2 separate regions of the Homo sapiens genome follow, and region 1 is linked to region 2. The links come from fine-mapping of genetic effects on gene expression. A gene starts in region 2. The other region holds a variant in brackets. All regions are shown on one strand. Distances are between the middles of the regions.

Region 1 (17,064 bases), 390 kb before region 2:
TTGATAAAAGTAATGTTTTGATGATGAGAAAAATTAAAGCACAGAGTTTAAGAAAATTTGATAAACTTAATTAAGCCAAAGGCAGAAAAAATAAGAACTAGAACTTCCAACCCCCTCTATTCACTTTTCTCAATTTAAAATTTCATCTTTAGAAGGTGATGTTTATCAGACATAAAATCCAAATCAATTAGATCTAAATGTTGGGAACCTTGAAAGGTTTAGTCATTCTACTGTTTAAGTTCTGTAATGACTAAGAACGTATCTTTTCCTTGTGTTCATCTTCATTGTTCCTATTTTACCCAGAGGGAAACATTCTTTGAGTAGGTTTATAGTAAGAATAGACAAACAATTTAAAACTCAGCTTGTTATACTAATGATTGACAGCTAACTATGTTGTATAATGGGAAGATGTGTTGGCTAGATAACAGAACTTATTATAGACCAGTACTCCCATTATCTAGTTAAGTGTTTTAGGAAAGACTTTCTTTATTCCCTCTCCCCATCTCACCACTCTCCTTCCCTCTCCCTTCCTTCTTTTCCTTCTGTTCTTTAAGAACCCCACTGTTCTCACCTGAGGAAAGATTGAGGATAATAAGGCCTACCACATAACTAACTGAACCTCCATGTTAGAGAGCTGTTGGGACAATTATATGAGACATGTAAATAACTTTACCCCTTTTTTCCTGTCTCAGTAAATACTACCACAATCCTTCCAGGTCCTCATTAAAACCTTTGGAGTCATCCTGTTTTTTTTCTTCTCCCCCAAACCTATCCAACTACAAGTCCGTTAAGATGTACCCCATATTTACTTTCTCCTTCTCCACTGCTACCATTCCATCGTAGGCCATCCAGAAAACTATAATCACCTCTAACTGGTTACCTTGCTTCTTCTCTTGTCCTCATTCAATTTATTCTCTATCTAGCAGCCAAAATGGGCTCTTAAAAACAAAAATAAAATCATGTAATTTCTCTGTTGAAAAGTCTCCAGCCATTTCCCATAACACTCAGAATAAAATGCAGATTACCTACCATGGCCTCTGAGGCAGGTTCAAGATGGCCACAGATTCTGTGACATTCCCATAGAAAAGAGAAGTGTCTGACTTTCTTCCCTTTGAATGTGGGCTGGCCTTAATGCCTTGTATGATTAACCAAAAAGGGCAAAGTGGCAGGAGTGATGTTCTGAGACTTCCAGGAGAGGTCATAAGAAGGCGTGGAGCTTGGATCAAGGCCTGCTCTGGGGGAAACCAGTCATCACATAAGTCTAACAGTAGTTAGAGACAGCCACGAGACCGCCATGATGCCAACTTGTGAGAAGAGCACGCCATGTGGAGAGGCCCTAGAATAGGAGATGCCATGTGAACAAAGAGCACCAAGGGAACAGACATTGAATGAAATCACCTAGTTTTGCAGCTTTAGCTGCCCCAGTAATACTACCCGCATCAGAGATAAATGTCCAGAAGAACTTTCCCATATCGCTGAACTCCAAATTGTGAGCAAAATAAGATGTTTGTTTTAAGCCACTAAGTTTGGAGATATGTCACAGAAATGGATAGCCCCATAGCCTCTCATGCCATAAAAGTGTAATTCTTTCCCCTATCTTGGAGTTCATCCCCTTCCATTTTCCCCTTTGCTTGCTGCCCCTGAGCTGCTGTGGCTTCTCTGAACACGTCAAGCTTATTCCTGTGCCACCACCTTGACACGTGTCATAGTCTTTACCCAAATTCGGACCCCAGACCTTTTCATACTTGTGTCCTTGTCATGGAGCTGAAGTGTTAAGTATCAATGGGACTTTCTGATCACTCCATCTGAATTAGCCTCACCATGCCTACATCGTTCTACTTCCTCAGTGTACTTTATTTTTCATAGCACTTATAATTCCCTGAAATGATTTTGTTCCTTTATTTATTTCCTACTAACCCTTTTGCAAATGCAAAGTAAACTTTTTGAGACCAGGGTCTTTTCTGTGTTTTTCACAAATGCTATTTATAGGGCTATTTATATTCAGTGCTATTTATATTCAATATTTTTCAATGCATGCATGTAAAAGTGCTTCAAACCTAAACAAGTTTTATTATTATTGCACCACAAGAAACTATTGCAAAAAACCATTGAGAGCTGGAGAAATATTGACTAGAATCTGCTCAGACATGTTCTAATAAGATATACCAATAAGATGTAGAGAATTAAAAATATCCAACAACATCAAACTTTAAGTCCACTTGAGTCAATCATAACAGTACATTTTCATGTTAATATCTCCTTTAGAAAACTGACAGTTTGGTTGTACTATTTTTCTATTCTCCCTTGGCACATGGCTCAATCTTTAGTTTTTTTTTTTCTTTTAACATCTGTCCTTTAATAACAATATTAAAAGTAAGGTGTTTTGGGGTTTAGCCATCCATAAAGTTATGGGACAAAGAGTCCATGAGACTGTTAAGTGTGTTAATCATTTAATATAGGAGGCACTGACCCCTTTCAAAGAAGGAAGAATAAACTCACAATCTGATTTATGTGAATTTTTGTTTTGCTTTACATTTTAACACCCAGTGACCACTTAGGGAGAAGGCTATCACCAATCAATAGTATTTAGGCTACTCAAGAGGAGAGATAACAGAGAGAGCCTAACATATTTGTAGAAAGAGCATCTCTACAAGGATTTAAGAGACAAAAAATTTTGATTCTGTTTCAATAAACTTATTGGTGTGATAAACTGTGTAATTGTCAGTATGTACCAGGAGAGCAAGTTTAATATATATTACAGTAGTACACATTTTAATATAGTCAGCCAGAGAAACTTACTGACTAGTAAGAAACTGAAATGTTAAAATGAAAATCCAGGCGTTGAGATTCCTAGAATCTCTGAAACCATCTTGCATCTCTCTCTCCATCTGCCTGTCAACGTGACTTTCTGAAATAACTAATCTCAAAGGAAGATTTTAGAAAAAAAAATCATGTGGATGTGTTTTTTTTCCCCTAATAAATGCCAATCTTAGGCAGTGTTTTTGTCAGGAGTCTCTGTTCAAGCTTTAAAAGCCAAAAGAAAGATGAAAATGAATACACCAAAATGTAATTTAAAATGCAAATGAAGGATCTGCAGAAAAGCAGCAAAGGCTAATTGTAGTTTTTCTTCATGCTTGGCTCTGTAGACAAAATGTGTTGATGTTACCTTCCTCCTGCTGGGAATGCCCAGGCTGTAGCTGTATTGCCACACTCTGACCTCTCAGATTAAATACACTTGATCTTAAAAAAAAACCCAAACCCCAGTCAGAAATCAGTAGGTACTTAACCCTGTATAGGAATAGGTGGAGAGGCAACCATATGTGACAGTGTGGTTGTTAACCTCTGAGGAATAGAATAGAATAGAATAGAATAGAATAGAATAGAATAGAATAGAATAGAATAGAATAGAATAGAAAACAGTAGTTTCATATTATAAAGAAAGGGCAACTAATCTATATACTCCAAGGGCTCACGTAGTATAGATTTTTAAAAAATCGAGTCCTGAATCAAGGACACCATTTGTTTTTAAATGACCAAGGCTTCAGAAATACTTTAGATTAAGTTGGAGTCAATTCTAAAATGTGCAGTTGTAGCTTCTTTCTTTTTTTTCAGTCCTGTCATACCTGGACACTATGTGCTCTACATTTTGTGGTGAGATTGGATAAATGCATTACTTGCAGCAAAACCTTGTTCACTCTTTTAAAATCTTAGAACTTGTCCAATTAAAAAAAAGCACAAAATAATTTGTAAATTCCAACTTTTACTTTGCTTTTTTTCTTTTCCTGGAATGGATGGATGTTATAATAAATACAAGCAACATTTTATCACAAATGTGAGTGGTCTTGCATATGTGCATTAAGACAGCCTACTCAAAGGTATTACATAAAGTCCTGGAGAAAGAATGGATTTACCAAATAAAATAACTGCTTGGAAAAGTTTAGGTCCAAAAATTATAATTTAGAATTATTTTTAATAGCTCTGGGACTCAAGTGGGATCCATTTCTCCATTATATGTATTAATTAGGGCCACAGAACCTGTGGACAGAAGAGATTGTTTTCTAATTCTCATTCTTCACTATCAAAACTTTGACCACCGTTAATAGAGTTCTACTGGTTCTTCATGCTATTTCCTGCCCTCCAGTATGGGTAATACTGCATTAGAAATTGGTCAGATGGAAACAAGAAGGAGCCTATAAAGGGAAGAGTGTGGATAATTGTATGAACCACACCAGGACATAATGTGGTCTCAGATGTCTCCACATATGCCAAGATTGAGAGGCTGTTGGGATCCTAAGTTAGGGAGGACACAGAGATTCCCTTGTACAGCTTAAGACAGCACAAGGGCTTGGGACTCACAGCTATTGTATTATGTTGCTTTGGACCTATTTCTTCAATTTCTTCGTCTTCCAAGATTTACCATCTGTGTCTTATCCTGCCTGAGAGCCATGGCTCCTTTTAGTAACACATACTTGTACACGTTAAGAGGAAAGGAAGACTTCCTTGTTAAACTCTATCAATTACTCTGTTCAGGGAATCACATCCACCTGTTTGCATGTCTGATGTGGTGTGTTTGAGGGTTTGGCCAGCACATGAAGAAGAGGAAAAGGAGTTGAAGTTCGCTTCTGAACTTTGTGGGACATAGTTTAACCACATGAAGAACAAGATTTAAAGCAAGTTTATAGGTCCAGTCTTAAAATACGCAAAACTGTATTAGGGTTCTTCATGCATAACTGGTTTATTTTCTCTGGGATTTCTTGCCTTTGGTTCTAAAGTTTTGAACCCATTATTTTTTCTTTTGAGGAGGGGAGGAAGTGAACTCTGGTGTTTCCTTCTCAGAAGCCACATGACTGAGTTCACTGGTGTGAAAATAAAACCCTTTTATAACAACACTCAGAAATACATTGTTTTCTTCTAGTAATTATTTTTCCATGAATATTTTACTTTGTTTTATAAAATTAAGACTAGGGCTGTCCTTAACTGCCTCTGATGAACAGAATGAGGAGACATTCTAAACACATTTGTTTAGTTGTTTATTTACGATGTGTTATAAATATGATACATATGACATCAAATTGAAAAATAAAATCAGGGGAGGTAAGAGAAGTCCTAATGCAGAAGGATAACAGAAGGTTAATCAGAAAATAAAATTTTTATGAAAAGGAAAATTTTATGAAATGAATGAAATGAATTTTATGAAAATGAAAATTTTATGAAAATGCTCATAAAAATCCCACTTTAGTCCTCTCGTTAATCTTTGGTTGTCAGTGTTGCTTTACATTGACAGTTCTCACCTTTCTCAAGTGCTTGAATGTTCCCTTCCCACCCGAACGAAAGGCTAATTTCCTACTTTTCTCAGATAGCCAGTTGTTATTTCTAATGTGAACCTGGCAGTCTGAATAACAACAAAGATACCTTATTTTAAAGTCTACAATTATTGGCTACAAAATATCCAAATATCCTTTTCTGTATCACTAGCTCAGGACAAAGTCTATCCAAAATAAGTAACGAATCTAAGATATTAAGATATTATTTGATTTAGCCTCTACATGATTGTCAAATGTGTTTTAGTATGTATGTTTCTCTGAATTCTTCCTTCCTTAGGACCCTCACATTAAAGTATTTTATTTATGATAATCTTTCCCTTATGCACCTCCATAGAATGATTTTAATAACTGTAGTAACACATTATTTTCCTTAATGATTGCAAACACTATAGTATTACTATGCATTAGGCACTATGGTAAATACTAATTGTTAACCCATTTATACTTTAACAACCCTGGATTATAAATACTATGACTGTCTACATTTTACAAATTAGGAAACTGAGGCACAGAGGAATTGATTAGCTGAACAAAGACAACACAGCCAGTAAGCTTGGAATTGCAATTCAAAAGCAGCCGGTGTGGGTCCAGAATTAATGTTATTAACCACATTGATGTGCTTTTTTTCTATAATAATTACTAAAACTTGTGTGTTTATCATCAACAGTGTAATGGAAGAGTAAAGTAATATATCTCCACTGTTATTATAGTAGTGGTATTATTGGTAGTGTAGCACTTACTCTACCTAGTATCTACGTGATGCCTTGAAATTGAGGTGCCAAGGAAAACAGATTATTTTCAGCCACTGGGAAATTTGTATAGGGTTACGTGGCTATGCAGTGTGTTTTAGATTCCTAGATCTGAAGAAATAACTCTGTGTCAAAGGTGGTTTGCACAGATTTCTGGATCATTATGAGGAGCCCTGTGGGAGCACAGCATCTGTAGTGGGGTCCAGCTCTGGATTTAGTTACATGACTTTGGGCGAGTTATCTGATCTCTATAAAACTCTGATTCTTTCTTTATAAAAAATCAGATAATTATGATCCCTCAGGATGCTGGGAGGTGATATTAAAAACTGACAACTGTCATGTGCTGTATCAATAAAAGTTTTGCTAGAGTTTTAGCAGAGAAAAATAATTGTAGACTTGAATCACCACTTTGCATATAACAGTTAAGGCAAGTAGAAGTCAAAGGAACCTGCACTGTAGAGGTTTCCACATTGTAAGTAGGCATATCCAATGTGTGTCATTCTTGTATGGACCAAATGGCAATAGTTTATTAGCAGTGAATGT[GC/C]TATTGATTATATTAACAGATGCATTAGATTTTTATAATGCAGACTTAAAAAATAAAACATATGACCGAGATTGATAGTTCCTACTTCAGTATCCATTTTCCTGTCTTGCCTTAGTAACAAACCTGGCACATTGTGGCCTAGAAATTAAAAATGTACAAACAAACGACATTACCCTTCTTTCTTTGCAACTAGGTATCACTATGTGACTAAGTTTTGGAAAATATAATGTAAGTGGAAATATTTTGTTGAAATTATGGGAAGATTGTTTAAAGGGAACCAAGTCAGTAGGGAAGATTTTTTTTTATCCCTTTATATTTACTCCCTCTTTTGCCGTGACTGTGGATATGATGTTTGGAACTCCAGCATGAGCTTCATGGGCTATGAAACAAAAGTGAAAGACAGCTTTCTTTTCCATCTTGCAAGATGGCAGACGAAAAAGTTGATAAGCTGGATACTAAGGAGGAAAAACCTGATGCCAAGAAGGCTGATGCCAGTGGTAACATTAAAAAGGCTAACCTTCAGGCTAAAAAGTCCAAGAAGAGGAAGGCCCACTGCAGCCAAGGTCCTGTTCTCATCACAGGAATTGGCAGATATTTTTGGTCTGCCATGTATTCCCAAAAGGCCATGAACAAGAAGTACTCAACTGCTAAATACAGAATTGAAAGATTCTTGCAACTGTTACAAAACCAGTTGATGGTGACAAGAATGGTGGTAACCCGGTGGTTAAACTTTGCATAATGTGTAGCTATGATCCTATTGAAGATGTGCCTTCAAAGCCGTTGAGCCACAGCAAGAAACCCTTCAATCGGCATGTGAGAAAACTATAGGCTAGCATCTTTCCTGGGACCATTCTGATCATCCTCACTGAATGCCACAGAGGCAAGCAGGTGGTTTTTCTGAAGCAGCTGGGCAATGGCTTGCAACTTGTGACTGGAATACTGGTCCTCAATCTAGTTCCTCTATGAAGAACACACCAAAAATTTGTCATTGGCACTTCCACAAAAATTGATATCAGCAGTGTGAAAATCCCAAAACATCTCACTGATGTATACTTCAAGAAAAAGCAGCTGTGGAAACACAGACACTAGGAAGGTGAGATTTTTGACCAAGAAAATGAGAAATACAAGACTATAGAGCAGTGCAAGGCTGATCAGAGAGCTGTGGACTCACAAACTTTACCAAAAATCAAAGCGAGCTGTCAGCTCCAGGGCTACCTGTGATCTGTTTGCCCCAATGAATGGAGTTTATCCTCAAATATTGGTGCTGTAAATTTCTTACAAAGAACCCAATTAAATAACCAATATATTTTTAAGTAGAAGATGGGATTTATAACAATGGAGCAGAATTATAGCAGCCAGAATTCTTGATGATATCATGGGTTCCTTGTATCAGTTATGGGCTATTTCAAGATTTCTTTTATGATAAGAATATTAAAAGAAAAAAAACTAAAGACATTTAAATAACTGGTATTTTGATATCAATTACCAAATCAGTCTTAACTTGCATACCATATTACTAATCTTCAATTAAATTAAGTAAAAATTTTTATATAGTTATTGAGTGTACATCAGCTTGTGAAAATACATTGTTATTGAGTTTTGATTGAATCTAAGGTCTGACTATCCTGAAGTAGCAAAGGAATCTTAAAGTTATTAAATATATGTACTTAAGTTAAAAAGGCATTTTTCTGCATTAGATCACTGAATTCAGAAAATTTATATATAGAATCAGACTTGAAGCTGTAATAATATCTACTATTTATAACCAACACTTTGGTTTTAGTAAAATAACATTATGTTAAATTAAGTTGATAACTTTATTATATTCATAGTTTTGACTACATCTATTTTATTATCAATGTTGTTTATCTCTAAGCATAAGAAGTTTTTATTTAATATGAAAAGGAGCTTCCATGATTATTATTTTCTTTTAGAAGGGAAGAATAATTTTTTCAAGTTTGAAAAATAACACTTCTGAGTATGACAAAAATTATATTACTATATTAGCTATAAATCAATCTGAAGACAATAGATAGAATTGATAGAGAACAGAGAATTCAGCTACAACAGTTTTTGCTGAAGTATCCCTGTCCTGAATCCGTCTCCCTGTCCTAAATCCAGAAGGTTTTTTTCCTGACTTACTAAGAAATTTATATCGTCACTTTATTTAAGCAAAACAAACTCTAGGATTGCCTGAGAAATGTCTCCATCATTGTAATAGTAACTTTAAAAATTAGCCCCTTTATCTTCATCCAACTGTCTTTCTCTTCCAACTATATCTGGCCTGTTCCAGACTATATTCTCTCTTGTATTTACTTTTAATTCAGTCTTGAGGTCTCCTCTGGAGAGTGGCTATAAGCTCTAGCCTTGCCCTGATGGGGTTCCAGGAGTGACCATAGTTGATGTTTACAATATGGCTTTCACAGGATTCTTCTTTATCCTGGCGGATGGCCTAACACCTAAGTATCTGACCTGTGACCAGGCGTCCCTCTCCTGGGAAACTTGTTTATGCCATCGGATGCACTGTGGTTCTTCTCTAATCTGTGCCCAGTTTATCCCTACCAAGACAGCCACCTTCCAGAACAGCACTGATCAGAAGGAGAGTTCGGTTCAGATGTATTAGTCAGGTGAGACAGAGGTGGCAGCACAACAAACACGTAAAATAACAGAAGAAATTTTTACTACTTACCAATCTTAGAGAAAAGAGGGCAATACGTCTTGCAGGACCAGTGGGGTCTGGGACACACATGCTCAACTAGCAGGTGGGGAGCAAGAGAGAGAGGAGGGACCAGAGGACCAAAGCCTTTATTGGGGTTCAGGGTGTTACCCAAACAGGTTTCCCAGGGCAAGTTCTAATTGGTGGGTTTAAAGCAAGCAGGCACGTGTTCCAGGACGTCATGCTATGACTGAGAAGTGGTCAGTGTGACATATCTGAACAGAGTGGGAGGTCTGTGGGGACAGTCAAGTAGGTTGGACCTAGCTGTCCCATGTGGAAAGGGTCACCAGGAAGTTGTTGTTGCACAAGGCAAACATCTGGATCAATCACATTGAGGAACTGGTAGGAGGCAGAGAATTGGAAACTGTCAAGAGTGACTATGCCCTGTTTCTGTATAAGAAAGTCCAACTTATACTTAAAATGAATACGGAGGCAATATAAAATTATAAGAATTCACTAGATCCTGAATTCCAGAGCCATTTTTTTCTGGTAAGAAACAAGCCACTTCTTGATTAGCCATGCATGGGGGTATTATTGTTATAGTAGCAAACACAACCATGTGAAAATAATTAAGATTCACCCTCAATGGTGGAGAATGGCTGGTTGCTTCATAATGCAAGCTGTGGCAGAAATGGAGTGAACACGCTGACTCTCAAGGAGAGCTCAATGGCCCTTATAACTTTTCTGGAAGGAACACCATAATGTGTAATAGAACCAACACTGGCTTTGGAGGAAGAAACTCATGGGTTTGAAGCTCCACTCTGCCACTTAGTTCTGTATGTCTGTTGGTAAATAATTTGCCCTCTCTGAACGGAAGTTTCCTTGTACATAAAATAGGGGTAATAATACTTATCTTGGAAGACTGTTGTGAAGATTATGGATTGTATGGACTTATGGGCAAAATGCTAATGCAGGACCTGACACCGCAGGTGTTCAGCTCATGGTAGCTGTTATTATTACCAGCCTCGATTGTGACTTTCTTATATTGTGATGAAGAAATGCAATGAAAGCCTCAAGGTCTCAAAGGTGAAAGAGGCAAAAAATTAAGAAACAGGGCAAAGTAATAATACCACAGTGAATCAACTTATATCCTTGTCATGTTCCTGTTTTCAAGGGAGGATGTTGTCTTTTTCTCCCCTTCACAATCTAGCCCATGACAAGCATCCTCTAAGGTGGCTGTGTATAACATGGCACTATGGTGGAGGAAAAAAGTGCTACCAATTTATTACCAATTACAGTTTATAATCTGGGATGAGGTTAAAAATACTTGATAACTGAATAGCAGAAGCACCTGTGTTGCACACACCAACTACTAGCCTATATCAGCCTCACTTCTTTCCAAGAACAGTCAGAATGAACACTTAGACTATGCCAGCGTGGACCTTTTCACTAAGTAAGCAGCTGTTTTGATATATTAGGAAATGCCTGAATAAGAAGGAACACGACTGTAACTACATGACTTTACTACTCTTATGCGAGCTGCTTGGAGACATACTCTGTAAAATGTATCAACTTTTGCTTGGTTTTCACTTTCAAAAATTGTTTCTGTCAACAAGGAAAATTTCCAGTTCCTTAACAAGTGGAAAATAATCAGAGTTTTAATCTTGCACCTCATAGTAATAGCGTAGTAACTGGTATTTTCTCAGTATGCGCACCAAATATTAAAAAAAAAAACTTGAGAACTTTCACCTTGGCAAATATGTAATTTTAAAAGATCATAGGCGGTGGCTCACGCCTGTAATCCCAGCACTTTGGGAGGCCGAGGCGGGTGGATCATGAGGTCAGGAGATCGAGACCATCCTGGCTAACAAGGTGAAACCCCGTCTCTACTAAAAATACAAAAAATTAGCCGGGCGCAGTGGCGGGTGCCTGTAGTCCCAGCTACTCGGGAGGCTGAGGCAGGAGAATGGCGTGAACCCGGGAAGCGGAGCTTGCAGTGAGCCGAGATTGCGCCACTGCAGTCCGCAGTCCGGCCTGGGCGACAGAGCGAGACTCCGTCTCAAAAAAAAAAAAAAAAAAAAAAAAAAAAAAAGATCATAGGAGACAGAGTAACCAAATATCCAATATTTCAATTTAGTCTAAAATCAGCAGTAATTCAAGTAAATAGGAACTGGGTGGTTTTTTTAAATATGAAAATGCGACTTTGTTTCTAAAATTTGGCTTGGAGACATGTTAAATTGGTCTGGGAAGTTTCTAAGAATCCCTTTACCTTCAGGCTGAGGAGAAACATTTAGCAAGCTCACACTAACAGTGTTGGAAAGGGAAGAAGTATAGGAAACCAAAACTCAGTTTTTGATTAGCACTATACTCATGATACTTCTAAAGACAAATCGGTTGTTTCCAAATCCTTTGGCTGGTCGGAATCCTAGGGAATTTGCCCATTGTTGGCACTGTGGTCTTTGGAGTGTATTTGTATACTGGAAACCCAAAGGATGCAGGAAACGTGGGTTGGTTACATATTCTAAACCTCTTAAGGGTGACAAAAAAGCACCCACAGCTCTGCAGGGTATGGTATTTTAGGAAGAATCATTGCTTGTACTGTGCTGTATTCCCATTTAATGTACGTTAGGAATGTCTGAAAGGTATTCAAAACCTCCAGATTCACTTTCTATTGACTAGATGGACCATACTGGTAGAGCTCCTGGTACGCTGATTCTCAATCTGAAGCCAAGGGTACAGCTAGGGCTGTGTTTTCTCTGCCAGTACAGTGAATTAATCGTGGGATAACTGGCAGAATTCAGCTCTGGGTCAATTTTCAGTACAAACTCTATTACTGTGTCTAACAAGGCTGTATGAACTGCCTATTTATGTATGCAGAAATGCTCTATATAGACAACATTATCTGGTATAAACTGAACTGCACTTGTGCCAAGAAAATAGCTCCACATGCTGCAGACATCTTGGCTCTCTTCTGCTGCTTTTCAGGTGGTGTGAATTCTGGCAGGAGCCAAAAGTCAAACTCCAGGATAGAGCCTGGGTCTCTGGCCCACCAGCTATGGTGGGCAGCTTCATAGAGCACATGAGGCAGCTCCAGTTGGCAAGCAGCCCCTTCCTTTTAATTAAAGCCATTGGCACCTTCGGTAGGGGAGAAACAGAAATGGGAATGAGTTGGTCTTCACTGTACACTGAGGGTGTCAAAACTGATATCTTCATTAAAATAGCTTAAGCTGAACTTATCTGAAAATATCAAAAATTTATTACAGGGAGTCTAAAGCTTTATTATCATCATCATCATTGGGGAGGGATCAGGGGCAGACTTATATAATATCTTGAAGACTCCTAGGCTCCTGGAGTGAAACTGTTATGACTTGGCACCAATGTTGCTAGAACATCTTGTAAGCAGGTACAATGCCAAATGAACACATGTGAACAAGAATGCTCAGCAAGGAGGAAATGTTTATTTTATCAGTGAGTATCATAACTAGAAATAGGATAGAACTGATCCATCTGCTTCATGGACACAGCCATCCAGGCTTCAAGACAATAGATAACTGGTGCAGAAGTTGGTGGCAAAAAGAAAAAAAAAAAAAGATTGTGCATCTGTCCCCTAGTCAAGCCTACTAAACAAGCATTTTCTAAGGTCTAAGCATATTTTACCTGCCCATGCTCCCAGAGAAGGGAAACATTGGAAATCAAATCTGTATGCTTTGCTGCTCATTAGACATTGTTATTCTCTGGGCAAGTAGGGAGAAGAGTGGCTAATTGTTTTGCTGCCTTTTGCATGTATATTATTGATGAAGACTACATAGTTTCATTGATAGTTCATAAATTTGCAGATAATATGAGAAGGAAAAGGAAATTCAGTGTGTGTCAAGAGCAGACAACTTGGTTTATTTCTTCTTATATGGTACCCTAACATTGTCTTTGGAGAGAGTTTTCCTTTTCTTTCCTTTTTAAAGTACAACTTTATTGAAATATAAGTGACATACATTATACTGCATATATGTAAAGTGTAAAATTGATAAGGTTATGTATCTATCCATGAAATATCACAAGTAAGATAATTAACATATTCATCACTCCCAAAGGTTTTCTTATGCCTTGTTGTAATCCTTTCTTCCTGTTACACCCCATCTTTCTCACTCTCTTTCCCTTTTCCCAGGCAACCACTCAGCTGCTTTTTGTTCCTATAGATTACTTTGCATTTTCTAGAATTTTATCTAATTAGGATCATATAAAATGTCTTCTTTTTTGTCTAGTTTCTTTAACTTATTACACTTATTTTGAGATTCATCCATATGATTATGTGCCAACAGTTCATTCTTTTGTATTGTAGAGCAGTAGCCTGTTACATGGATAAAGGACCATTTGTTTTTTCATTCACATTTTGATGGTATTTGGATTTTTTCCATTTTTTTTTTACTATTACAAATAAAACTGCTATGAACATTCAAGTACAATACTTTGCATGGACAGTTGCTTTTATTTCTCTTGGGTAAATATCTAGGAGTAAAATGGCTGACTCTTATTTATTTAAGAAACTGTCTACCTGTTTTCCAAAGCGGTTGCGCTGTTTTACATTTCCATCAGCAGTGTATAAGGTTCTAGTTCTTCCACATTCTTATAGACATTAGATATGGTAAGTTTTAAAATTTTATTCATCTTAATAGGTGTGTCATGGTACCTCAATGCAGTTTTAATTTTCATTTCCTTAATGACTAATGATGTTGAACATCTTTTCATCTGTTTATTTGCAGTCAGCATGAATTCTTTGGGGGAGGTGTCTGTTCAAATATTTTGCCCATTAAAATTTTTTTCTTATTGAGTTTTGAGATTTCTTTATGTATCCTTTAAGTTCATCCTTTATCAAATATATGATTTGCAAATCTTGTCTTCCTAATCTGTGGCATTTCACTCTCTTAATGGCATTTTTAAAAGAGGGGGTTTTTAATTTTGATGAAGTCCAATTTCTCAATTTTGTTTTGATAGATCTTACTTTTGGTGCAGTACTCAAGGAGTCTTAGCTTAACCTAAGGTCCCGTTCTTCTACATTTCCTGTTTCTCTCTCTTTTTATTCCTTGGTGCCTGGAGCAGAAGTGGCAGAGCTGGTTTGTAGATGTGAAGAGATTCCTGTTTTCTGCATTCAATAGCTCTGTGCAATCTGGCTACTTGCCATTTGGATTTAAAGCATTAGAAAAAAGACAGGAGCAGGAGACTTGAAAAGTTTCTGTGAAACCTCACATTATAACTAAGAAAAGAAAGCCACTAATTGCTTTCAGAGAACTTGTCAAGAAGGTTTCAGATGTACTCGCAGTCGGTTTTTCCAAGAAAAAGCAAAAGCAGTTTTATACGGTATTTTGAAATGTTAACCAGATTTCTTAAAACTTGTGTTTTGATAGCTAAACAATAATAGAAATAAAATCTGGTAAAAGTTGTTACCTAATTCAGTGAACTTTTCAAAGTTTTTATTTTCTTATTTTTATGGAAAAGAATAACCAAAACATTCACAGAGTGAAAAGTCTGCAATACTAGGGCAAAGCACTTGTTTGGCACAACAGGAAAATAACTGCATCATACCAGAGTGGGAATACATGCAGCTCTTCTCTAGTTTCTAAATCTGAAAGCAGCATTATTATCAGGTGGTGATTACATTTTTGGAGTGAAACAGTGAATTTGTCAAAGCACTTATCTATTCTGCTTTTGGTAATACTAGCTTATGCTTTTTTCTTTTCCAAATGCTTTTTATATAAACTATCTGATGGCATTCTCATCACTGACATTACTATACATATTAGAGAAGTTAGGAACTTGAAGAAAAGTTAAGTATTTTGCTCAAGGTAACATTGCCAGTTAGCAGAAAAACCAGGATATAAACATTTTCTTTCTCTAATAGTTTCTCCGCTGTTAGGTGCTGCTCCTTAAAAAAAACAAAGCACCTCTTTCTGTCAGTGGGATGTTTAACTGTACCCACTTCTGCTTCTGTTAATATCCATCAATAGATGAGAGTTAAAATATTCTTTCTCTTACTTTGTGTTCTCTCTAATTTAGATTTTATATTTTTGTAATATGAGCTTAGAGAATGACTCAAAATAAACAATGTTGGTACTGAATGAGCAGTTCTAAAAACTTAAAATTTAATTCACTTAGGTTATAATAATGCAGATCTCAATATTCCATTTGGTCACAATTTTAGGAAATATTTGTTATTAATTATAATTCTGGTATAAACTACATTTGTTGAAATTGCTTTAATTCAAGGCAGCTTCTATAGGATATTTTTCAAAACATCCCAGTGTTCTGAGTGACCAAATACAGAAATAAAGCCTGTCCCTTAAGACATCTACCTTAAAGGAAACCTTATAACTGTGAAAAGAAAATTATTTGAAAAGTTTCCATTTAACTTAATTAAATATTTATAGAGCAGATAATCTAAAAGAGTTGCTTAGTTAATGCTAGGTGATCCTTTTACTGAATATCTATTTTGATCTTATCACTCATATTGCTCATTACTTTTAAGACTTTTGATCATTTTACAGAAGACTTGGGTCTTCTGTGTTCTGAGGTTTAGGTTTAAAACTATGACACTACACCGAGGAGGGTGTCTATTGCTAAAGCTGGTTTAAATAGTTTAACATGCAGTCAGAAAATTTGTTTTGCATTGACAATATAAAAGCTAGCTGAAGGGTATGGAAATGCTCATATAGGAGGGAGGGAGAGAAGGTTAAATTTCTTGCCATGGGCCACGCTGGAGCAACTGTTAACAATTTAAACAAGGATTTTTTTTTTTTAACCAAAACCGTGCAAGCATGGTTTCTTTCCTTGAGGCAGGCAAAGGACATGGCTGGGCTCATACATTTTTAGCAGCTGGCATGTTAATGAGATAATTTCTATTGAAATGAGCTAAATACTATTACCATTTGTGGACTTCCAGCTGATTCTAAGGCATTTATTGAACTTCAAAAAGTGCTCCAGAATCAATTCAAAGTACATTTTTAGATTCATGTGTATGTTGGTACCTATATACATGAACAGTCAATGTTTATGCTTATGTGACTTGGCTCATGAAGTGTCCAGATTTCTTAAAGCTTGTGTTTTGATAGCTAAACAATAATAGAAATAAAATCTGGTAAAAGTTGTTACCTAATTCAGTGAACTTTTCAAAGTTTTTATTTTCTTATTTTTATAGAAAAGAATAACCAAAACATTCACGGAGTGAAAAGTCTGCAATACTAGGGCAAAGCACTTGTTTGGCACAACAGGAAAATAACTGTGTCATACCAGAGTGGGAACACACTTGAGAATTTCAGATTTAAACTCATTATTTTTAATTATAACACTGTCATAACAAAGCACCATAGAGTTTGTGGCTTAAACAACAGAGATTTATTTTCTTACAGTTCTGAAGGCCAGAAGTCCCTGATCAGTGTCTGATGAGGGCTTTTTTCTTCGCTTTCTGATGGCTGCCTTCTCTGTGTATCCTCACGTGGCCTTCCCTCATTGAGTACATGTGGAGAAAAAGAGAGACACCAAGCTCTCTGGTGTCTCCTTTTTACAATGGCATTAATCTCATCATGAGGGCATCACCCTCATTTAACCCTAAGTACCTCCCAAAGATCCCACTCCAAATACCATGACATTGGGGGTTAAAGTTTCAACATATACATTTGAGGGGGAGACAGACATTCAGTCCATAAGAAATGGCATATGTGGCATCCATATGTGGGGAAGTTGTCCCTCAGCTGTTGTAAATGTGGGTCTGGACTCAAGAGTGAGATCTGATGTGGAGTTAGA
Region 2 (17,064 bases):
ATAGGGATTTTAACATGTTTTGTCTTTTAAGAATGCTATAAAAATATATTGAATAAAAAAGATTAATTTAGGAGATTTCATACTTAATATTTAACACTTAATCTGGAGCAACATACAGGTATTACATGAATATTGGGGTTTGCTACATCCCAATTAAAATGCACTTTTGAATAAAATGCTGGCTATTTTTCTCACAGTCAATGTTTAAAAAAATCTGAACAGACATAAAGGAGAAAAATGTTTTCCCAAGTATAATACTAGAAAAAATAGCCATTCTTTCTTTTACAGAACTTTAAATTTTAAAGAATGCCTATGTTTCTTAATTCTATTCAATTTTTAAAATCAATCACTCTCGTGCTGAATATTTTTAAATGAATATGACACTTTGCATAGATCCCATAAATAAACAAAACGTGCACAGCTTTGTTTATGTTAGGAACCTTCTGCTAAGTGTTGCTTCTATTTATTTACTTTTAAATTATGCCAGATTTTTGCAAATTTGAGTCAGTTTGGGGATCAACTTGAAATTTTAAGGACTGGCTATTTACTTTGCTTCTGATTACTTGCAAATATGTTAAGGTAATAGTTTTAATGGCCAGTAGAAGGTATAAGATGAAAATATACCAGATGTACTTAATTATGGAAATAGATGTACCTTGCCATTTTTTAAATTGTTTCTCTTAATTTCTTTTAACTTCCTCATTCTCTTTGCTTTCTCCTCACATCCTATAGCCCTATACCTTATAGATCAAGCTCAGATACTCCCTGATTTATGTAACATAGTATAAAAGGTCTGTAATGATGAACATGAGATAAGTTTCAATAAAGATAGGTCAGTAAATCAAAACTTTGCCAGGAAAGCCATGTTGCTAAAAATAAATCCTGCTTATAGGCATTCATGGCTGTAATTATAATTCATTAATTAACTCATAATAAAGAGCTGGCATCCATAAACTGACTTTCTCTTATTATATGTAATCTGGCATGCTTCATGAGATTTAGGGCTGGTTAGTTTTTCTAAGACAATAAAAATCAAGTGATAATAGACTTATATAAGACAACGGATACTGATACTGGTCTCACCAACAACCATCCAATCCCCTATCTTCTTCTTCCTTCTTAAACAAATCATGGCTATGTTCAGGTATTTCCTATCCTTCACACCGTCATGTGTTTCAGAATGATTACACCTCTAGTTCCAGGGCTGGTAGATACTTATTAAGAATAAGACAATTTCATTCTCTTTGAAAATGGTTGGTTTATGTGTCATCAGGTAACTCAATTTTGGGTAATTGGATCTTAGCGGAAGTCAGTGATGGTGCTTCTAGGAAAGTTCCTCACTCTAAAGACAAAAACGCATAAAAAAAAGAAAGTCCTTTTCTTTTCCCTAACGCTTTTTTATGCATAGATTATGATGTTGGAGCAGTAACTGTGAGGGAACTGCTTGAAGGAAAAAATAAGATAATAGGAATGATGAGCAAAGAGATGGAAGAAGCCTATATTATGTGTGATATCTATAAGCCACACAGGTTGTTCCTTGCCTGGAGTCTGCCCTACAAGAGACCTCATCATTTAAGCCAGTTTGAGTAATTTTCTCTTACATGTACTCAGAATTCTCAAAACCTTCTTTCTATCTATTCTTTATTAAAGAATAAAGTTATTTTGTTTTCTATAACAAATGAATATACCTGTCTGGATTTCCTCTGCAAGGAGATTAGCATGCAGTAAAATATCTAGAGGCTAGCTTTTGTTGGACATTCTTCAAATTTTGGACTCTTGATACTTGCTAAAGAAAGGTATGTAAATCAATCAGTGTTCCCATTAGGTAACAGAGTTGTTTCTTTTTCACTAATACAAAGTAGCCAAGAATTACAGGAATAGGATATGTTTTAAAATAGAAACATTTTAAAGGAAATGCCATCGTATCATCATGCATTTTAAAAGAGCCAAGTTACAAATTGGTAAAAACAACTGCTCTTTCAAGCAGTGCTACCATTATAAAATGTTAGCAGATAACAGAAAGAACTGGGGTCTGAACAGTGTCTCCCTCTTTTTAAAGAGTAGTTGTTCCCAAAGAAAGAAATACAATGTTATTACGACGATCCAACTCACATTACTAGTCATTTTGTTGATATTCAATGAAACATAACTCCTGATTCAGTGGTAATGAGTTCATACAATTGAAAATTTCATATTATTTACATCCTATTTGAAAATTAGTTCATATTGGAATATGTTTTAGGTGAAATTGGTTCACAAAAAAGGGATAAAGATAAAATTGAATATGATTTTAATATTAATCTAAATATAATCTTGTGGGATATAATTTCAAAGATGAGATGCTAACTTTTTAATATGAATAAAGGTGGCTGCAATGTTCATTGCTTTACTTAATTGGCCTATAATGGGGATACTGATAAGGCCATTTCTAGCCCCTAGAATGCCTTTTTGCTAATTAGACCCACCAGAACATGGCTTGGCAAGCAAAGCAATGGGCTGGATTCCAGCTCCTACTTGCCCATTTGGCCAGGCATTGTTGTGCAGTGAACAGCTAGCACAAGCGTACTTAGATGCCTTGAGTTACAAATTCCAATGCTTAGGTGGGCAAGTGTCAGACAGCAGGGAATGCTAAAAGTGCCGGCAAACTGGAGACTCCATCACTAATAATAGCTACAGCTACTATTTCCAGGATGGAATGTAGACACAATACTTTCAGAACTTCCAACTTATGAAAAAAACTGGAAGTCTAATTGAGTTTGTTTAACACCATGGTTCCAAACAAAAGGTATTTGAGAACCAAACTCATATTGTTAACTGGCAGTTTATAACTGGACTTAAAGGAAGTGTGTAGCCACAGCTACTTGCTCAGATACTACTGTTAATCCCAATCCAGTTAGATTCAGAAATGTTGAGCTCCTGGAGGTGATCGTGCAATCTAACAAAAGTGGGACAGAGGCTATGTTTTACATCCAAAGTAAGTCTCAAGTAGCAAAGACCATAGATGTAGATATGGAGTGAACAGAAAAAAAAAAGCAATAAATGTTAAATTAACTCTGAAGGAAAAAGAAAAGGATTGTGTAAAATTAAGTACTATGTGGGGAGAACATAGTTGTGATTTTCAGGTAGTTTGCTTTTTATAGTACTGCTCTACTAAATAGCTACAACACTTTGCTAACATTAATTAAACCTCACAAACCCTGTGAGATAGGTAATTACTGTAATTAAAGTGATATTCCAGATCGGTAAAATGAGAGGTAGAATGCCCAAGGTCATAATGATTGTATGACCCAGGTTGGCAGAAAAACTAAGTGTTCTTACATCATGTTACTCCCCTAGAAGGGGCTCTCTCTCTCTTTTTGCTTTCTTTCTGTTTCGACTAAGAAGATATAATGATAGGATAAATAAACTTCATCACTGAGAAGTTAAACTGCAAGTTGGTCAGGGAAGCTCAAAGACAATCTAGAAAAATGCCTAAATGAATGATCTGTATTCCATAAATAACATATATAATGTGCAAATTCCATTTCAATTAATTGCATTTATTTAAAAAATTTCCATTCAAATTGCTGGTTTAGCTAAATGCATCAGTAAATCAAGAAATCAATGCACGTAAAGCATTCCCCATACTGCACAACAGCATATAAAAGACTGTCATTAGTTTGGAAAGAGAACACAACAGACAGACAGAAGGAACTCTTCTTGTTGCTATAACTACGGCATAACAAAGGTCAGCACTGGGAAGGAAAAAAACCTTTCTGGACTGAACGTTAACAACTCAGGGATATTATCTTGAATTCTTCCTCTCAACAAAGAAAAATAGAATTCCTTTTTTAAAAAGGGAGTTAATTGAAGATAAACTAAATGGAAACACACTTAAAAAAAAACAAGCATGAAGAGTGGCTTTGATTTCAAATAAAATATTGAGACTAATATTAAGAAACCTGAACTTTTGCAAATGGAGATATCTAGGTTACACTGGAAGTCTAAAATCTCCAGGGAAAAAAATATAATTTTTGTGTTCACAACCATTTTGTAAAAATTTCTTTATTCTACTTAAAAATGGCAAATTCAAAAATGGTGATATTATATAATAGGAAATGGTTTAAGACAGATTTAATTTTGGAGTTTCACAGAGCTTAACAATATGACTTTTATAAACCTAATTTTATGTCTTTACAAGGTACATTCTTGAAGTAACTCTATTATTAAAAATTGAAGATTTTTTTTTCTAACTGGGTAAGTCCTGTCTAGCAATTTGAAGATTCAGAGGCCTCTTAATAAAATGTCCAGTGTCTGCATGTAAGCTTGTTTTAAATAAAAGGTCCACTTCTTCCTGTTGAGCGAAGTATTAATAGAACATTGGTTTCCTAAGTTACTGAGTTTGGAGTTTTGATAGAGAATTCGAAGAATTGAGATAGGGGACTATGTTACTTGATTTCCAGTGTCCTATAAATTCTGTCTAAGAAGACTTGTGTGCAGAAGAGAATGGCCGACAGCAGAAGGAAGTGACACCGCCACATTCTGGACTGCTGTCAGGGGAACACGGACTACTGGCACACTGAGCACTGTGGACAAAGTGTTTCCTGGTTAGCTCTTAACTACAAATTTCACCACAGGATTTCCTCACTTTATATTACTTTACCATTACTTATCTATCTGAAGAGATTTATCTTTCCAGAAGGCACACAGGTAGTTGCATGATTAAGGAGAATTTTCCTGGGACAAAGGCCAGCATGGAATGCTTTGATTCTGCCAGGCAAAGGAAAAGGGAGACCCCAAAGAACAGCTTGGGGCCCATGTTACAAATCTGAGTTTAGATTTGTTAGTGCCTGGAAGCTATTTACCATCACTTGGTGTTTTGTAGCAAAAGTGACCCATTGTTTCCTTCATGAGTAAATACTTTGACAAAATCTGGAATGTTATTGTTTGTATTTTCTAATAATCCAATGAACAAAGGATACCAAATATTTTTGGGAAAGTACAAGGAAAACAATAGCTAATAAAAATCAAGCTATGTCAGTGAGCCTATAGAAGAAAAAACATTCTTCTGGAGTTTTCCCTTTCTAGCCTACCAGAGAAAGTTTGGATTTCTGTGTTTGGGAATAGCACTTTCCATGGAGTGTTAGAGCTGTAGTTTTATAGAAATGAGAATTTATATGATGAGAAAAAATATCATGAGTAAATTAAAATGGGGCTAGACCAAATTTGGTCTTGCAAAGAACAATTCTAAAAATTAATGCCCAAAATAATACTTGGTACATATTTGTCTAGTGTCCAAACTGTATATGAAAATATGTGAATGTGATAAGCTTGATTAGCTTAGTTGATTTGAATATGGTGTTAATGAGGCCAACGTAATGGGTTTAACCCTGTGAACCCATTATTTTCATTATCCTCAATTGTCACAGTTTTTGTCCTTAACAGTGGCCAGCCATTCCATAAGTGCCTCCTGTTAGTCATTAGAAAGACAAGGTAAGAGAGTAAAGATAGCTGGAAAAACAGCTCAAAGCATGTGACCTACTGTGTTGGTAGGTTAAAAGTACCAGCTTTGAATATGAAGGTCAGCATTGTGATAACAACGTATCAATATTTAATTAGAAGTGAAAGAAAACAACAGGTGTGCAGAATATTGATTTTAAGAAGTAGCTTCATCAAATCCCAATTGTTAAGTCACCAAGACAACTTCTGAAAACGTTAAATTAAGGGATTTAAAAATATTATTTCATTATGCTATAATAATTTTTTATATGCAAAGATTTCTTTTATGGAAATAATAGTACTTCATTTTGGCTCACAGTTCATTATTAAAGATTTTCTCCCTCTCTGGTCATAAGGCAAATGAAGTTTTCTGAGCTAAGTGGATCTGCTAGAATAGTGGGTTCTTGGAAGGAATACTAGTAGAGTAGATTCAAAAGATGGAACCAGTTGGAGAAGGGCTTCATAAAATTAATTTTATAAATTTTGCACTTTTATCCTATAGGCAATGGGGAATTTACTTCCATACATTTTGTGTATACTACATTATTTCAATATGCATGACTCAGAATGTTTGGAACCTGCCATGTAGTAGGCATAGTAGGTATGAGGTGGGACACAAAGCTGTATAAGACACAATTCCCAATGTCAACCAACTCAAATTCTGGGAAAGGAGCCAGGTAAATAAAAATCCTAGGTAGATTTTTGGCCAGTCAAAAGAGTTAAAGAAATTATTCCCTATTTGTTTTAAGGGAATATTCCTTCTATAAAGGATGTGGTTATTTACTATATCCACAGTGAATTACTATGGCAAAAGAGGTGGTCCTCAGAGCCCATGAATGTAAGTTGAGATGTGAGTCCTTGGATATTAGGTAAGAAAGCTCCACACACCTTTTCTGACCTCCATGTTGTATATTTTCTTATGACTAATAGGAAACATCTCATTTGTGCGAGGTTAAAAATTACCTCTTGGTTTGAAAACACCAGCAGACAAGCTGCAGGTCCCCAAGATTTATCTCGGTTAGTTTATTTTTTATTTATGCTATTTTCTCTGATTGTATTACTTCTGCTTTCTTTATTCTTCAGTAAATTCTTGTTCAAATCTTCTAACCTTGTCTTGGCTATCCTACAAGTATTTAAGAAAGCTTAGTTCTTTCACAGTTGCCAAACTTTCCCTAAAGTCATTAAGACTGTTTTCAGTGGTAATCAGCAAAATAACTTCCAGGGAGCAGAGGAATTTCAAGGTTAGATTCAGGGCTGTGTGGTCTACTTAATCACTTCATCAGATTATTCTCCTTCTGTGTTACTCTGCGTGGAAGATAGCTAGCTGTCCCTCAGAATTGTTTCTCTACCCCATAGTAATAAAGCTGCATCTTGGAGTTGGCTTCCCAGTAATCTTTGCAGCTAGGTGTGGCATGTAACAAGTTTTTGACAATTGCATGTGAGCTACAGTGCTATGTTCCACTTTAAGACCAAGACTTTTAACAAGCCATCATAGCTCCTTCATGCCCTTCTGCCAGCTTGATGTAGTTGAGCAGTCCTTTGGAGATAAAATGTCCCAAGATAAAAGGAATCTTAATCTATGGATCACTCATAGAGAAGAATGGTCTCTGATCTGAAATTCCCACCCTGGACTGTTACATGAGAAAACACATACTTCTGTGGATTTTGCATTGGTAAATTTTGAGGTCTATTTATTTCAACAGAATATGCTACCTTTTTGGAGATTCTGGATAACAATGATGATCATGATTATGTTGGAAAGTAGCAGTACTTTAAAGATATTTGAGAGCAGTACATAAAATTTATGCTGAGTGGGGATACTTTTTTTGGGTGATGCTCAAGTTGGGATTAAAAAAAAAGTCCCATCAGGATAGCTATGAAACCTTTGAACTCTCTCCTAGCTAAGATTTTAAAAAATCATAAAGCAGGGTAAAGGCACAAACCACTTCCAGGTAATTGGAAGCTGTAATGGGCATTTTGCAGAGAAAACAATCTCACTTTTTCGTATATCATATAAAACTGTGGACTTAAAGAGAGTTAACAGAGAACTGAGTGTTCTCAGGTATTATTATCAAAACCCTGATATATCATTTTAAAGAAGACAAACATAGACTAATGTGAGACATGGTGCATATATGTATCTACACTAGTATAAAAAATTAATGGATATGAGATAGATGAGAAAAAAGATTTCCCTTGATCATATTTGGCTAAGTATGCAATCAATTCCCTAGTGGAAAGGAAACAGAATGCTATATCAGAGCCATGAGGTATATTGTTTATAATTTCTTTTATAAATTTAATTGATCCCATATCAACTAGGGGCCTACAATCATAATTAAATCTGAGGTTCCAGTATCCAGAGAAGGTTTATTGATTGATTAATTATTGACAGTGAGACTAGGGTAGAGGTTATAAACATAAGGCTTTGGAATAGACCAGATTGGGTACAAATTTCAAACTTTTTACATACTAACTTTGTGACCTAATCTAGGTTACCTCATTTCTCTGGGCCTCAATTTCCTTGTTTGTAAAATGGAAATAATAGCCACTTCACAGGATTATTGCAAGGACAAAATAGAATATCTGCAAATTACTTAGTGCAGGATCTGACACTAATGGGTCATTAATAGGGGCTATTATTATTAATTATTAAGACCAAGAATTCTGTAGTTTTCCTTCATTAGCTGGAAAGTAAAATTCATTGGAATTTAGAACATATTTTCTCTCACGTGTTTAAGATTTCATTTTGAAAGTAAGCTTGAAGAGTCCCAAAAAGGAAAGCATGAGAAAAGGAATTTCCAAAAAGGAAAATTTCCAGAAAAGAAAATTTGGCAAAAGAAAGCATGATGTCTTTATTTGATTAAAAACATTGCTTATTTATAAACTTCAAAATTTCTAACATTGGACTGATATTTTAAATATTGTGAAAAGATGTTTAAGAATCTATCATTTTTCTAGCATGTTTTCACTCATTAAAAAGTGACCACATTTTCCTGATAAATTTCCTATGAAGCTGAGCTAAAACAAAATAATCAAATGGAAAATTTCCTTTTTTGCTTTTATAATGCATTAGCACAAGAATAAAAATATCTTATTAACTTGAATAATTATTAACCCTCCAGTTATTTTGTCTATAGATGTCAAATAACCGGTAATAATCAAACAGCTTATGCTTTAAAAAAATTACAAAACATGTATATTAATCAATGAGTCACAAAATACACCTGTTTCCTATTGCAATAGTAGCCCACTCTTGAAATAACACCTTCATTTAGGCATACACACACCACAGTTTCAAACTTGTTATCAACAATTTATCCTCCATAGTTGGTAATGTCTTGATATGGTCAAAGTCTATCTTTTGAAAATTCAAATACAAAATGGTTTAAAATGTCTTTTCAGCTTTTTTTTCTTATTAAAGAAACAAAACATTATATTTTCCTCACTTATCTGAACAATTAATATTGCATTACTCTAGAATAAACACTTAATTTTAATACAAAACTTGTACTCTGCTTGATAACACCAATTTAAATAATCTTAAGTTTTTTCTTTCCTACTCTATAACTTACCTTAGCCACTGTTTTGCTCTTAGAAAAAAAATTATTCAAAAGTATTCATAATTCTGTATCTTATAACTATTTCCACTAGAGTATACTTTAATAGTAGGATAGCATGTGTCCACAAATATTTTATTTGAGGCAGCAGTGAAGAGGTTAATTTACAGCTGCATTTATGAACGAGTTTTATTTATATTTGACGTGCCGTACAATATTTATGTTTCAATTCATAAACTATGTTTTCCCAAGTGGCAAGAAGTGAAATGTTAATTACATACTATTCTAAAATAGACTGAAAGACAAAAGTTTTTGTTTAAGTAAAGTTTGAAATTAAAAAATAGGGCAGTGAGTTAAAAATCTGATTTATTCTTTGGAACTACCAGATGGAATAGTAAAAGAGGATTTTGGGAGGAGAGAGAGAAGAGTAGAGAAGAGAGACAGAGATTGAGATGGATTTTGAAATTGGCCAAGCATCATATCACCGATTTTTTACATTCTGGCATAATAGTACTTCGAGGGTCTGAAGAACCACACCGGTCCGTTTTCCCTTACTTTAAAGATCTAAATGGTATTTTTTTTTAAAGTCTTCCTGGGTACACCAGGAAATTTATTTAAAACCATGCCATTGGGTACGAACTAAGAGCATTCTTCAAACAAACATGACCTTTTCTCTGTTTCTTGTATTGCTCTTCTCAACCCAGCCAGAAATCCCAGACAAGTTTATTTACACACACACCCGCACACGCACGCACACACACACCCCACACGCAGAGTGGCGGAAACGCCCTCTTTCCAACCCTTCCAAACAATTATCTCCGAGAGCAAAAGAAAATAATCAACAGCCCTGTGTGCTGGGCTGAGCCGGAGAGCCGGGCGCGAGGAGGGAGGGCGATCCGCAGGCGAGCAGGGAAAACGTGGCTCCTCTGCCGAGGAGAGGATTTGTGAAAAGGAGCGCTGGCCCGCGTGCGCCTCTTGTTCCCCGTGTAATTTGCAGCCAATCATCAGTAGGTGTCCACGTCCCTGCGTCCTCCTCACCTCGGCGCCAATCACCCCCACCCCCGCGCCCCCGCCCCCAGCCTCCACACCTCCTCCCTCGCCTTTCTCTGTGGCTCCCCTCCCCCAGCAACCGCACACTCGCACACACACAAACAGAGAGAGAAGGGGGGAGGGTGAGAGAGAGGGGAAGAGAGAGAGAGAGAGAGAGGGGAGAGAGAGAGGAGAGACTCCCCGGCTCCCTCCCTCCCTCGCACACAGCGACTGGAGACGGACGGAGAGCAACGCGCTGGGAGAGGAGAGACCACCGACAACAGACCCGCGCTCTCACACATACACTCACACTCGACTCTTTCCTCTCCCCCCACCTCCTCCTCCTTCCACCCCCACCACTAACACCATCTCCTCCTCCTTCTCTCTGCAACAAGAAAAAAAAGCCATTTACAGGTATTTTTTTTGATCCGCATATTTATTTACCCCCCCCCCCCCAACAGTTTGTTTACAAGTATTAAAGTTGTAATTGGGAGCTGCCAAGACACATCTGGATTTGTGTTTCTTTGTGTTAGGGGGTGATGTGCAACTAATTAAAGGCAGACTGGCAGCGTCTGCAAATTCTAAGGCTCCCCAAATAAAAAGAGACTGGTAAGTGATTGTTCTTTCTCTTTCTCTGGCTTTTTTTTCTCTTAAATGTTTGCTGTCCGTTGGGATTGTGAAAGTAGATTATTAATGCTGGACTCCAGCAAGAAAAAGCGTCGCTGTATTAATTTATTAATTAGTCTGCACCCGCCCCTCCTCCTGAATGTTAAATATGACCTTTGATCTCTATGTCTCTGGTAGACCAGACATACAGTATTAGGCATGTAAAGTCACATTGTTTAAAGGCAAAACAGGATCATGAAGTATGGATCTCTAATTTAGCTTTGGCATAGAACTATAGTTATTTGTGTGTGTTTTATTTTGTTTTTAAATAAAATCCAAACAATAGCTGTGGCTTAGATACCTTTTTCATGCTCCAGAGATGCATTGATTAAACAATAATGACCTGGATACTGGGCATAATCATTTTCTACAGTTTCTGGTGGTATTAAACCTTGAGGTAGGAAGAGGGATGGTGATGGCAATCAGAAAAGCAAGGAAAGCTTGTGTTTGGAAACACCACTCTAAGACTCTAAAAAAGGGACGTTAAATTATTTATTTATTTGGAACAAGGTCAAAAGACTAAAAGGTTGAAAATTTTCCCTCCACTCAATGTGATGATATCTAATGCATGGTTGACATAACTAGTTTTTACTGAGTAGCAGTTATTATGGTCTTGCAGTTACAATGTGATTCGCAGAAACTGAAGCTATATGCATATTCTTGCTGTGTCTTCCCTCACCCCTTCCAAGCATCAAGAATATTTAGCCAAGAGCATTTTGGGGGCACCTTTTGTATTGCCCTCAGACCTGAGAAGGCAGCAGTTTTCCCTAATGCGAAACCACAGAGGTGGTTCCTGAGTGATTAGGGACTTGCTGTGATTGAAAGATGCCTGCAAGCTTCTAATCCAGCCTGGGGTGAGGTTCCTTATCTTGATTTACTTTGCCTAATAGGGATTTGTTTACATAAACCCCTCTTTTTAGAGCACCTCATCAGTAGGTCTTGAAGTTTTTGCACTTGGAGTTTGGGCATAACTGGTTCATTAACCTAATTATAAGCATAATTACTATAATTGATAACCATTTTGAACTCTGAATATTTGAGACGGAGACTATTGGGCCCCCATGTAGAATTCCCTGAACTCTGCATTCTAGACCAATCTATGGGCTTCAAAAGATGTCACAAAAAGATATTCTGGCCAAAAAATCTGGAAACAAAGAAACTGGTTTTTTAAGTGAATATACACTTTATGCCTTTGCTTTGCTTCTTAAAAGGCTGTGATGTACTTCTCCCTCTGTAATAAACAACTAAAATACCTCTTCCTAAAGCATAATAATGGCCTGTAAGCAAGGAGATTAATGCAAATACCCAGTTAACATTAAACTTTCCTCTTAAAAAGAGCAAAATTAAAAAATAATTTTGTTATTTTTCTCTGGCAAAGAACACGTTAAAGCCCCCCCCCCTTTTACTCAATGTAAAAATCAGTGATTGTGAGATATCCTTTTCAAAAAGTCCCATGCTTTCCTCTTGTCTTCGGAAGAGACAGCAATCTCCATTAGGAATGATTAGGAATATTCTTATAGAGGCTGCAGGCACTTGGTTTAAAACCTGAGACATTGCTGATATAAATAAATATGTATATATGTAATTATCTGGCTTATCTTTATTTTCTACCTTAAAAAAAATCAAGTAGAACACCACCCTCTTACCCCCACCAAGACCCACCACCAAATGGCTTGTACAATTGAGACCTGTCCTTGGTCCATTGAATTAAGACCCTAACAGAGCCAGCTGTGCTGGGATTCAAACTAATGACCGCAGACACAGAAGGATACTGTGGCAGCTGGTAGTTCTTTTTTCCCTGCCTCTTTAGTTCAGATTGTATGTGGGCAGTCTCTTAGCTCTCAGTTGTATTGTGTTTGCTTACAGTTTATACTCGGATGTATTGTAGACTTTTTCAGTACTTCATTTGCTAATTTCCTGTTCATTTTCCTCATAGGGCCATTGCTGTTTTCTACTTTACAGCATTTGCATGCCCAGGCAGCACTTGTTCACACATTTCATAATGTTTAAATGCCCTCTGCTTATAGGTAGTATCGCCCTCCCACCCATGATTTGCATGTCTTTAGCACTCCAATTGCCCTTTTCCTTAGGCGTTTGTCACCCCCGTCTTCCTTCTTTCCCTGGGTATCCTGGCTATTAATACATTTTCTCAGGAGGGTTATAAGAATAGGGGGGAGGAGCTGTGGTTTGCTGTGGGGAGGGAGGGAGCGGGGGTTGGGAGAGTTGGGGGGGATGGGCTGGGGGGGGTCACGTCTTGATGATTCTTATGCAAACGACCTGATGGAAGAATGTGGGAGCTTTCGGTGTCTGCGGTGGGTTAGTGAGGGAGGTTGTTTATTTTTAATCTTTTTCCTCGTGCAGCTCGTTGGAATGACTTTCTTTATTTTAGTTGTAACAGTTGGAGGATAATGCAAAGGAAGACGCTGCCTGGGAATTCACCGTCTGTGGAAATGAGCCCCAGAGAGGAATAAAGCAGCCCTCACCTTGCTCTCCCCACCCGAACCCACTTTCCCCACCCGCCTCGGCCCCCACCCCAACACCACCATCACTCCCTTCCCTCCCCCCCACCTTTCCCCCTTTTCCACCCAGGTGTCGGACCAGGCGGTCCCCACTTCCACCCTGCACCCCTTCTTCCCCCCCTGCACCATGAACACCAATGTCTGCGTGGAGCCCGGGCCGAGCCCGGAGGCCCCGGGCTTGCCCAAGGAAAGCCACTTGCCCGAGGGGGCTCTGAACAGCCTTGTGGATTACAACTCGGAAATGGAGCGCTACCGCTCCTTTGCCACCTCCTTCTACAAGACCAACGGGGGCGCCTTCCCACAGGCGGCCAAGATCGCGCGCATCACCACCCCCATCTTCCCCAGCAGCGCCGCCGCCGCCGCGGCCGCCGCGCGCATCGGCATGTCCCCCTGGAACTGCGACAACGCGGCCACCGCCGCCGCCGCCACCGCCATGCTCTGGGGCAGCGGCGGGGGCGGGGGCGGCGGCGGGGGGGGTGGCGGCGGCGGCGGCGGCGGCGGAGGCGGGGGCGGGGGTGGTGGGGGCGGCAGGAAATCCTCCTCCGCCGCCGCCTCCTCCTCCGCCTCCTCCTCCTCGGCGATCCTCCCCGCCGGCGGTGGCGGCGGCGGCGGCGGCGGCGGCAGCAGGACCAGCATGCACCACCGAAACGACTCCCAGAGGCTGGGGAAAGCTGGCTGCCCGCCAGAGCCGTCGTTGCAAATGGCAAATACTAATTTCCTCTCCACCTTATCCCCTGAACACTGCAGACCTTTGGCGGGGGAATGCATGAACAAGCTCAAATGCGGCGCTGCTGAAGCAGAGATAATGAATCTCCCCGAGCGCGTGGGGACTTTTTCCGCTATCCCGGCTTTAGGGGGCATCTCATTACCTCCAGGGGTCATCGTCATGACAGCCCTTCACTCCCCCGCAGCAGCCTCAGCAGCCGTCACAGACAGTGCGTTTCAAATTGCCAATCTGGCAGACTGCCCGCAGAATCATTCCTCCTCCTCCTCGTCCTCCTCAGGGGGAGCTGGCGGAGCCAACCCAGCCAAGAAGAAGAGGAAAAGGTGTGGGGTCTGCGTGCCCTGCAAGAGGCTCATCAACTGTGGCGTCTGCAGCAGTTGCAGGAACCGCAAAACGGGACACCAGATCTGCAAATTTAGAAAATGTGAAGAGCTAAAGAAAAAACCTGGCACTTCACTAGAGGTCAGAGGAGATGATTTCTTGTTTCCCAGTCTCCCCCCTTCCCTCCTCACTCCCTCTCCCCTTCAGGGATTCTTGTCTGGCTTCAAGATGCAGTACCCCTTCTCAGAAGCTTCATTCAGGTGGTAAGAGTTGTAGGTGGTTTGCGAAAGGCTTGGCCTCTCCACCACCCGCACCAGCTGCACTTCACGTGACACCGCCCTTCTGATAGAGAGAGTGCCCTCCTTTTTATCCCTGGGGGAAAAATAATGTAATTGAAGAATCAGAAGTTTCACATTCAATATGCTCAATATTTTCCCTTGGTGGTTTAAAATGCCCCCTCCTCCTCATTAAAAAGGGTGGGGCATCTTGCCCAAAGGACTGGACACATCACATCCTATACAAGTTTACTGGCTAAGTTAGTGGCCCATTTATAACAGTGAGGACACAGTTTGTGGTACACAAGCCTGTTCTCATTAAAAAACCGGTAACAAACCACACAGCAGTATTCAATGAAGTTGAAACACCTGGATTCAGAAGGGGATTTCCTACCCTTTTCTAGAATCATTTTTCTACTCATCAAGGCAGAATGTTTTCTATTTTATTTTCTGCGTATCTGATATTTTTGGAGAAAGCTGAAACTGTGTAGGAAGCGGATTTCTACCTGCAAATTTTGAGGAGATGTGACTTAGAATAAAGGGATACAATTAGTTAATTTCAGGGCAGATAAGAGTGATTTTGTTTAAAAATTATTTTATGTGGTTTTAGAATGAATAATTTCTAAAACTCAGTTACAAAAAAAGTATTTCCCCTGGGCTCTGCATTGGACAAAGTAACCATTTTGTGGTTACAAAGTTGGTGTATACACCAAGCACAGTTTTGGTTGATACCTTATATGGTCAATAATAGTTTCTTTTACCTATAGGTCTTTAAAACAGATATTGTACAGATGCTCACTAAAGTAATTGTTAAATTAGGTTATGAATTATGCTAAATACAGAGATTGATACCTTTGATAAAAATTTTGTATTGTGTCCTGATCAAAACAAAAATGGGGAAAAATGAAAAATCACAGGTAAATGACTTTGGTGGTATATTAAACAAAGAAATCTGGACAAGTACTTATAGTTAGTCTCGATAAAATTTACAGGGTAGATAATTAGATGTTCATATATACATGAGACTGTAGGTGGTGGGTTTAGCATTCTGTGCTTTAACATTTTAATATTCTGTGGAGTGAGTTGCAGGATGAGAGTGGCTCTCACAAGTTATCTTAGGGTTATCTGTACATTCTTTTAAAAATTGTGAGTACTGCTTAGAGGAGTTTGCTTTATGAACTGGGAAGCAGTCTTTAAAAGAATAAAGAGAAGGGTTAAAGATCTTTGGTACAGGTTTGAACACAAAGAAGATACAGTTTTTTTTTTAACCTTTAATTGTGTAAATCAAATGAGATAGCCCTCTAGGATTCTAAAAATATCAGAATTATGTTGATGTCATTATTGGGTATGATCAGTTTCATCAAAATATTGCATTTATTCTTCTTTATAAGATAAATCAGCTCTTTTTGGAAAGTTTAACTTTACTCCTGGATGGTTTATTACATTTTCTTTGGCAACTTTCTTTGTGCAAATATAATAGCAACTATAATGCAGGTCCATGTATTTTCTTAGGTGGCAAAAAATAGCTTTTGAATCTTCTTTGCCGGATTAATTTATTGTAACTTCTAAGGACTATGGGAAATTAAAATTCAGTTCATACTGAAATTCTCTATTCCCAGCTGATAAGGACAACATGGCTTTTATTTTTCCTCTTGAAATGTAGTATCTAGAATTATAAATTTGGTTCTGCTGTTAGGCCTCATCTTTAGCTAGACTCGTGGCACTACTTGCATCCCAATTTAAGATATGTAGTAACTGAATAATTCTGATTTATTTAGTAAATAATTACCCTGCAGGGGTTTGATATGAGTACCAATAGGTTTTCTGCACAAGTTTCTATGCTGGTGTAATTTTTTAATTTGATGCTTTTCCTACAAGCTTGTTGTGATATTTAAATTCCTCAGGCATTTTGATGACAAAATCCCATAAAACTACATTTTCTTCTTTTTAAAAAATTCTCATGCACAAAAATTCTGTTACTCTTCACAAGGTGGGGTATGGGTAGAATAAGAAGCTGATTTTTTCCTTTGAACTCTCAAGCTGATCTTCTAACTTCAGATCCCTTCTATCAGAGCATGGGCTGTGTTTCAAGGCTAAGATTATTAGCGGAATACTATTTGGCTAAAAGAAATAAAAAGCTTTTTTTCAAAATTGTATAAGATCCTATCTAGATCATTAAAAAAGACAATGCCATCATGACTGCCTTAGACCTATGTGCAAATACACAGTTATGGTTGTAGGAAACCAGCTGAGCACATGTCAGAGTGACAGGGCTTACATGACTGAACCAAAGCTGGAAGAGGAATTGCAGGAAGGTGAAAAGTCCCCCTGCTGACCTGGTTTCTCTCTTAAATTTGGTCCATCCTCATCTGGGAAAATGTTTTAGAGATTGGATGGGTTCCTGGCTGAGGGCAGTGATTTGGGGACTCATTGTGGATATCACCTGTGGGTTCCAGATGTAAACTCCATAGCTAATATTTGTTGGCTTTGAA

Alleles and levels. Alleles are on the strand shown, and positions count from the first base shown. SD is a standard deviation of normalised expression in the study named.
For the expression in cerebellar hemisphere of the gene that starts at base 10,288 in region 2, GC is the low allele of the variant in region 1 and C is the other (moderate effect, 0.55 SD a copy in GTEx).

The links. PIP is the estimated chance that this variant, and not a neighbour inherited with it, causes the effect. A credible set is the group of variants that fine-mapping cannot tell apart.
Region 1: its variant is the best candidate, but not a certain one, in a credible set for the expression of CXXC4 in cerebellar hemisphere (GTEx, PIP 0.52).

Annotation. Positions count from the first base shown.
Region 1 is chr4:104,876,933-104,893,996 of GRCh38, reverse strand. It overlaps LOC105377351 (a long non-coding RNA gene), which reads right to left and starts at 1,098. Exons shown (of 2, transcript XR_007058213.1): 1 at 1,030-1,098. It also overlaps the pseudogene RPL6P14. RefSeq lists an enhancer at 14,367-14,416. The variant GC/C (reference allele first, on the strand shown) is at 6,617.
Region 2 is chr4:104,488,118-104,505,181 of GRCh38, reverse strand. It overlaps CXXC4 (CXXC finger protein 4), which reads left to right and starts at 10,288. Exons shown (of 3, transcript NM_025212.4): 1 at 10,288-10,481; 2 at 13,123-14,438. The coding sequence starts at 13,380. CXXC4-AS1 (CXXC4 antisense RNA 1) reads right to left here and starts at 14,217. Exons shown (of 10, transcript NR_125926.1): 1 at 14,122-14,217. RefSeq lists enhancers at 12,801-12,850, 16,853-17,042.